2 separate regions of the Homo sapiens genome follow, and region 2 is linked to region 1. The links come from fine-mapping of genetic effects on gene expression. A gene starts in region 1. The other region holds a variant in brackets. All regions are shown on one strand. Distances are from middle to middle.

The links. PIP is the estimated chance that this variant, and not a neighbour inherited with it, causes the effect.
Region 2: its variant is fine-mapped to the expression of GJA3 in whole blood (TOPMed, PIP above 0.99). The same link has a PIP of 0.9 or more in T cells, blood mononuclear cells, esophagus mucosa and fibroblasts.

Annotation. Positions count from the first base shown.
Region 1 is chr13:20,158,612-20,162,611 of GRCh38, reverse strand. It overlaps GJA3 (gap junction protein alpha 3), which reads left to right and starts at 1,560. Exons shown (of 2, transcript NM_021954.4): 1 at 1,560-1,722. RefSeq lists silencers at 910-1,269, 1,500-1,579, 1,740-1,829.
Region 2 is chr13:20,118,721-20,122,900 of GRCh38, reverse strand. LOC105370101 (a long non-coding RNA gene) reads left to right here and starts at 3,112. Exons shown (of 3, transcript XR_941719.3): 1 at 3,112-3,196. The variant T/C (reference allele first, on the strand shown) is at 2,456.

The DNA of each region.
Region 1 (4,000 bases):
ATATTATATTTCCATTTTTATCCTCAGAATACCAATAATAGCATTTGGCAAACAGACTACAAATATTAACAATTCCTAGTGCTTTTGTGATCAACAAAAAAAAAAAAACTATTCCTGTGCTTCTCAGAGAAAATGTTTTAAATGAGAAAAATATTCAAGTATTTTAAGACCTTCAAAGGTAGCATTTTTCAATTAAAAATTAAAAACTAAGTCTCCGTAACTACTACCTACTCCATACATACACCGCAAAGTTCCCAAAGGGAGAAGATATTTTAGATGCGCCTTTAGGAGCTTAGTTTTTCCTCCTTGGGATAACTTTAAATTCAGATCTCAGCAGAACAAACGCATTTTTCAGGGCAAGCCAACTGCTAATCCGAGTAGATCTAAACGCTAACGAAGGCAGCCGACGGAAGCTGCTCCATGAAGACACGAAAACTATCAGACTTGCATTTTGCCACATTCCTGGAATAAACTTATTACTCATAAAGGTGATTTTGAAGCCATTTCAGCTTGTGGAATGATCACCGAAATGCAGTCCACCGATATTTGTTAATATCCCAGGCTGGTCAAACCCCACTCCAGACCTTGGGGGACGGGGAGGGGACCCGCGGCCTCTCTAGGCTGTGCCCAGACAGCAGACAAGGACGCGATGCCGCCCTCGGTCCGCGGCCTTCCGCGGTAGGCGTCCCTCTCAAGCGTGGTAAAACCACCCCGAAGGGAACAGAAAACGTTAAAATCTTCGTTGGGCGCCAGCAGGCAGGTTAGGCCTCGCCCTGGCATCTCGTCTCCAGGACCAGATGGAGCGAGTGACCCGCGGGGACACCTTCCCGGTCACCTCGAGCGCAATAAAACAAGTTCTTTTTTTAAAAATAAGCATCCGTGTGCCTGCCGGCTAAATTAAGTGTGTCTGAAGAGAAGCAGGATGGCGGCCGCTATTTATAACCTCCCGCCCCGCCCGGGCGCCACTCCTCGACAGCACCCACGCTGTGCCCGGCGGCGCTTCCGCGGGGACTTCCTGCTCGGTGGTCCCCGCCCCGCCCCGCGCCAGCCGTCCGGAACCCGCGTCCCCAGGCGGCTGCAGGCGGGCGAGACCTAGGTGCCCGACGCCCACGCGCCTCCGACCGTGGGAGCGCCCGGAGAGCAGCTACCTCGCCGGGCCTGCGAAGCCCAGGACAGGCGCGAGCGGGGCGCGGGCTGGCGCATCTGCGTGCGGTGGGCGCCCCGCAAGCGGGTCGGGCCCGCCCCAACAGCCCTCGGCTCTCCTCTCACGTCCCGCGCGGGCATGCCCCGGAGTGCGTAGGCGGCAGGGAAGAGCCCCCGCGTCCACATCCCCAGGGCCCGCGCAGGTGCGGGATGGGGATGCAGGCGCTAGGCATGGACGTGCGCGCGGGGTAGGGTGTGGAATGCGGACGCGGGCGAGTGCTGTGGCTGCGCGTACAGGGTAGGGATGCGGGGGCGGTAGGTGTGCGTGCTGGGAAGCGCGCGGGGCGGGGCTGTTCGGAGGCGGCGGGGGCGTGGCGCGGCGTCCTGAGCTGCAGCTTGGGGGCGTCGGGCGCAGCGCACACTGGGGCTGCAGGGATGGCGATCAGGGCGGGGAGGTCGGGCCCTGGCGCGGGGCGCACGCGTGAAGCAGCACCGCACGTGTGAAAGGAATTCTTTTCAGAGCGGCCGGGAGCCCTGCTCCGGAGGAACGCACCCGGGTCGCCGCCGCGGCAGAGCGGGGTAAGGCGGGCCGGGCGCCCCGGAGGCCAGGCACAGGGGCCGAGGGCAGCGCGGGGCGGGGACGGGCGGGTCGGCGGCGCAGCGGAGCTGCCGGGCGAGCCCAGCGGGCTGAGACTGCCGAGCTGGGAAGCCGAGCCCCGGCACGTGTGCGGCTCCCAGCCCCCTAGGATTCTTTCAGGATTCTTCAAAAAGTTGTGGGGAGCTCGGGAAATTTGTGAGAAACTTTTGGAATAATTGATCTTCCTCCTTTGCTCCTGGAGGTCTGGAGAGCAGCGCCTCGTTTGGCTTCCCTTGATGGACAGTCCAAGGCCGAGTTTAAGTTGTTTTCCTGGGGTTGTTTTCCCCCTCGGGTGGAGGAAGCCGGGCTGTCCCGGACCGTCAGGCTGTAGGGCTCCTAGCGATGCTGAAATGCTTGAAAACTCTAAGCAGATGTCACCGCGCCAGCTAACGGCGCGCACCCAGCCGTCCACGGGCATTCAGCATCGCCGTGCTCCTAAAAGTCCTGTTGGGATTGTTTAGAAACAAGGTTGGCTCGCCTACATTTTTTTCAGAAACTTTTTAAAACTTTTTATTTTTAAGAAACACTGTAGCTATTAATGCCACGACCAGATTTCTCGACCTGTATGTTTGTTATGATGTGTTCAACTATAAGGAATTTGCAGAGGAGTGGAAAAGCACTGTCCGAGCCCCTTCCCGTAGGAGACTTGAGAAAACAAACGGCAGTGACGCGGCTGCATTTGCTTTGTTGCCGACTCCACACTAGTGAGCAAAATTCATCCTACCATGTAGAGTTCTCGGTTCGTGAATATGTGACTGCAACTTTAGAACTCCAGTTTTTATTTTATCAAGATGTCTCCAAAACATGCCATTTAAAAATGATTCTATACAAACAGCTGACAAGCGAATTATGGGTCTCATCACCCAGGAATTAAAAACCATGGTGATTTATGATGTGCGCATCACTTCACTGGCGGTCCATCCATGTGCAAGACAAACATTAAAAGATTAAAGAGGAAAAAAGAGGGATTTATTTTCCGAATATCAGTGTGTTCAAAGTAAACATCAGCTAGTTTGGCACAGATTCCACCTGCTCAGCAGTTTGGTTCATATCGAGATAAGCATCTCATAAGGGCAATGCATGTGTTGCTGTAGTGGAAAGTAATTCACGAAACGGTACTACTCTAACAAATCAGACAGTACTGTTTCTTAACCAGGAACCGTTAACTGGCTGAAAGCTGTCTTAAAAGAATGGCGGGTAACAAAATTTTTTGCCAATAAGGAAAATATTTTTGACCCAGTTTTCTTGAATGTTACTCACATTTTAACTTATTATATTCATTTCTCTTAGCTAAAATAACGTGTACACACTACATTTGAAACGAAAAATTACGTTTATCGCAGCCTTTTTTTTTTTTTTTTTTTTTTTTTTTTTTGAGATGGAGTCTCGCTCTGTCACCCAGGCTGGAGTGCAGTGGTGCGATCTCGGCTCACTGCAACCTCCCGAGTAGCTGGGACTACAGGCGTCTACCACCATGCCTTCTTCCTCCCTCCGCTGGATGGTAGCTATTCCCAGTACTATGTAGTACTTACATTTTGATCTGTTTTTTGCCACTCTGCCTCTCTCATAGATTGCAAATGAATCTCCTGAGAGTGAGGACTGGATCTTAATTGTTTTGCTGTCCTCAGTGTGTGGCACAGTGCCACACACAATAGGTAATAATGTTTTATAATAATAATAAATGTTTACTGAATTGAGGAGGGAAAAAATCCAATATATGTGACAACAGCATATATGTCTCTAAAAAACAGTATGTTTCTGCAATTTCTGTATAATGCTTAAAGGCAATAAAAATAATAAAGTTTCATCTTAATTTTCATTCCTACAGTGGTGGAAAATTCCTCATGATAACTAGGTTAGTACTCTACTGCTTGCTTTTTTTCTTTTTCTTTTTCTTTTTTTTTTTTTTTTTTTTTTTTGAGAGTTTTGCTCTTGTCCAGGCTGGAGTGCAATGGCACAGTGGCACAGTCTTGGCTCATTGCGACTTCTGCCTCCCAGTTAAAGCGATTCTCCTGCCTCAGCCTCCCTTGTAGCTGGGATTACAGGCATGCGCCACCACGCCTGGCTAATTTTTGTATTTTTAGTAGAGACACAGTTTCACCATGTTGGACAGGCTGGTCTCAAACTCCTGACCTCAGGTGATCCACCCACCTCAGCCTCCCAAAGTGCTGGAATTACAGGCGTGAGCCACCGCGCCCAGCCTACTGCTTGCTTTTTTAA
Region 2 (4,180 bases), 40 kb after region 1:
AAAAAAAAAAAAAATTAAAGGCCTAAATGTAGAAGCTAAAACTGTAAAACTCTTAGAATAAAACAAGGGGAAAGCTTTATGACACTGGATTTAGCATCAGTGGTTTCCTGGCTACAACACCAAAAGCACAAACAACAAGAAAAATAGACAAATCAATCAAAAGTAAAAACTGTTGTGTATCGAAGGACATTATCAACAGAGGGCAGCCCACAGAATGAGAGAAAATGTTTGTAAATCATATATCTGATAAGGGTTTAATATTCAGACTATATAAGCAACTCAACAACAACAACAAACCCTCAACTACAAAAAACAAAAAACTCCTAAACTCAATGACAAAAAAATAAACAACCCAATTTTTGTTTTTTTGGTTTTTTTCTTTTTTGAGACTGAGTTTCACTCTTGTCACTGGGGCTGGAGTGCAGTGGCACAGTCTCGGCTCACTGCAACCTCTGCCTCCCAGGTTCAAGCAATTCTCGAGCCTCAGCCTCCCGAGTAGCTGGGATTACAGGCACGTGCCACCATGCCCAGCTAATTTTCATATTTTTAGTAGAGACGGAGTTTCACCATGTTGGTCAGGATGGTTTCGATCTCTTGACCTCGTGATTCCCCCACCCCAGCCTCCCAAAGTGCTGGGATTACAGGCGTCTGCCACCATGCCCTGCTAATTTTTGTAATTTTAGTAGAGACGGGGTTTCACCATGTTGGCCAGGCTGGTCTTGAACTCCTGACCTCAGGTGATCTGCCCACCTCGGCCTCCTAAAATGCTGGGATTACAGGCAGGAGCCACCACGCACAACCCAAACAACCCAATTTTAAAATGGGCAAAGGACATGAATAAACAGTTCTCCAAAGAATACATACAAATTGCTAATAAGCACCAAAGATGCTGAATGTCAGTAATCACTGGGGAAAGGGCAAATCGAAACCACAATAAGATACCACCTTGAGCCCATTAGGATGATAGGGTACATTTAGAGAAATATATTTGGTCTTTGTCCCTGGTTCCTAGCACAGAGCCGCTAAAGCCCTTAGAATTTCCTGAGTGATAGTAGTGTCTTTTGTTATTCATAATGAAGCACCTATTGATCACATCTGAGTTTATGCTACTGAGGTGACTTAGGGTGAACCCTTAGATAGCTTCAGGATGGGGTTGGTCACCGGAAAGACCAGGTAAGTAGGAGGTTGGATCCTTCAGCCTCACCCCTAGACCTGTGAGAAGGGGAGGGGACTAGAAATCAAGCTCTAAAAAAGCTCTTGAACAAGCAGGTTGGAAGAGTTTCCAAGTTGTGGGAATGTGGTGCACCTGCAGCCCCCACCTCATACCTTGCCCTGCGCGTCTCTTCCCTCCAGCTGTTCTATGTACTTGAGCTCAGTCAATGAACACAAATTCCCTACAGTATTGGTCTCTGACACCAAAGAACAACATTTTGACAAATTGAGTTTTAAAGATTTAATTGACTCTTATTAGCAATGTATGAAACAGGCAGCCTCCAGACTACAAAACAGAAGGCACTCGGCTGGGTGTTGCAGAACAATCGGCTTTGGTAAGGCAGCTCAAGCAGGAATGAGGAAATCGTGTGGTGAGAAAAGTGCATTGGTTATCATTGGGTGACTTTCTGAGGCGGAGAATAGGGTCTGGAGGCAGGGAACCTAAGGCCGATTTCACGCTGACTTCCTAGAACTAAATCAAAAGGAAAACCCCAACTTTTCACACCTAAGTAACAAAAAAACCGGAGGTAGCCGGGCATGGTGGCTCACGCCTGTAATCCCAGCACTTTGGGAGGTCGAGGTGGGCGGATCACCTGAGGTCAGGAGTTTCAGCCCAGCCTGGCCAACGTGGTGAAACCCCGTCTCCACTAAAAATACAAAAATTAGTCTGGCGTGTTGGCGGGCGCCTGTAACCCCAGCTACTCGGGAGACTGAGGCAGGAGAATCGCTTGAACCCGGGCGGCGTAGGTTGCAGTGAGCGGAGATCGCGCCGTTGCACTGTAGCCTGAGCGACAAGAGTGAAACTCCGTCTCAAAAAAGAAAAAACAAACAAAAAACCGGAGGCTACTCCCTTTGCAAACCCCCACCCTTTTCTGCCTGGCAGATGGAAAATTGAAAGTGTCTCTGAGGGCAGCCAATCAGACGTTTACATAGGATTGTAACTTTGTAACTTCACTTCAGCCTCTGATTGGTCGCTTCCCACAACCAATCAGCTTGATTGTGGGCCAAGTCTTCCTTTGCATAGAACTGTAACTTTGTAACTTCACTTTGCAAACAGAGGCTTGCATCGGGTGTAACCTTTGTAACTTCACCTCAGCCTCTGGTTGCAGGTCACTACTTCATTTACATAGAGTGTACACCAGGTAACCAATGGGAAACCTCTAGAAGGTATTTAAACCCCAGAAAATTCTGTAAAAAGAGCCCCTATGCTCCAGCGGCTCCCACCCTGTGGAGCGTACTTTCA[T/C]TTTCGATAAATCTCTCCTTTTGTTGCTTCCTTCTTTCCTTGCTTTGTTTGTGCGTTTTGTTCAATTCTTTGCTCAAAACGCCAACAACCTGGACCCCTCCACATTTCCTTGTATGAGTTTAAGCGGAGGAAACCTCTCTTATGCAGGCTCAAGTGGACTGGCCCCCTTTTGACTGGTTGCTGGTAGTCTCCTATTTTTTCAGGAAAACTGGCCCTGGTGGGGGATTTTCCTGTTTTGTTTAAGTTTCAGTTTGATTACGTGGCACTTAGCACAAGTGATTCCATTTTGGTCTGGCCTACTGGGGCCTAGTGCAGGAGCTCAGCCCAATTCAATGGCCTCCCATAAATCTTATTTAACACTTAGCACCACTGTGCACATGTGGAAGGTAAAACTCAGAGACGCTAAGTATCTGAGTGTGTCACAGAGCTAGTAAAAGGCAGAGCTGGGATCAGATACATTGATTCATTCACTCAAAAACCTTTTTTTATCGAGTGCATACTATGTATCAGCCTCTGGGTACTGAGCATGGGAGCAGAATCAGACACCCCGAACTGACAGGGCTCACAGACGAGAAGGGGAGACAGTTCTCAATCATAGAAATCACTTGTTCTCACAAACGGTGACACGTGCTATGAAGAAAAAGGCCTGAGAACTAGGAGGGCATCTAGAGGCGCCCTTTCTGGTCTAGGCGTCCTACAGGCAGCTGGAGGAAGACGTCTGAGCTGACATCAGATTCATGGGTAGGAGTCTACCAGGCCAGGGGGGTGAGTGCCTTCCAGTGCACAGAAAAGCTGTCCGGTTCCCGAAAGTTTCTTTTTCTTTCTCTCTCTGTGTGTGTGTGTGTGTGTGTGTGTGTGTGTGTGTGTGTGTGTTTGGGGGTCGGGGCAGGGTCTTGCTCTGTTGCCCAGGCTGGAGTAAAGTGAAACAATCGGCTTCACTGCAGCCTCGACTCGGGCACAAGCAATCCTCCTGTTTCGGCCTCCAGAGTAGCTGGGGCCACAGGAGCGCCACCGCGCCCCGCCTGAAGGTTTCTTCTCTCCATACTGGTAAAATCCTGAGCTGTGTTTGAGCCTCTCACAGGAGGAAGGTAACGTGACCTCCTCCAGCTCACTCACGTGACACTCGGTCCTCCTTGCGAACGGCTCTCTAAGAAGCTGTGGGAGTGACGCGCAGCCCCATTCCTCCACCCTTCTTGTGCCGGGTGTCCCCCACAGAAAAAAATGCGCCGGCCCCAGAGCTGCCGCCGACTGTTAAGGAAGGCCCTTTGCACCCAAGAATGGAAGCGGTGTGGGTCGGGGTGAGGGCCCCGAAAAGGGTGGTGAAGGCCCTGGCAGAGAGAACACTCAACGTTCTCTGCCAGCTGCTTCCCTGCTGGTCCCGGGAGCCCCAGCCTCCCTTCCACAGGGGCGGGGGAGGACACGGGGCGGGGGCGACACGCGTGGGGGTGGGGCGGACGTGGGCGGAGACACATGGGGGAGGGGCAGGCACCTGAAAGGAGGCGACACCGGGAGGAGGGGCACCCCGCGGGGAAGGGGTGGGGAGGGAAGCGAAGGGGCACCCCGCGGGGGAGGCGAGGGAAGGGGGCATCCCGCAGGGAAGGGGGTGGGGGAAGGGCACCCCCCGCGCGGGTCTGCCCTGGCTGGAGCATCCCGGGGTCCTCAGACTGCAGGAGCTGGGAGACCGAGACCAGCTCAGCTGCTCTTCCTCACTTCTGTGCCAAAAGG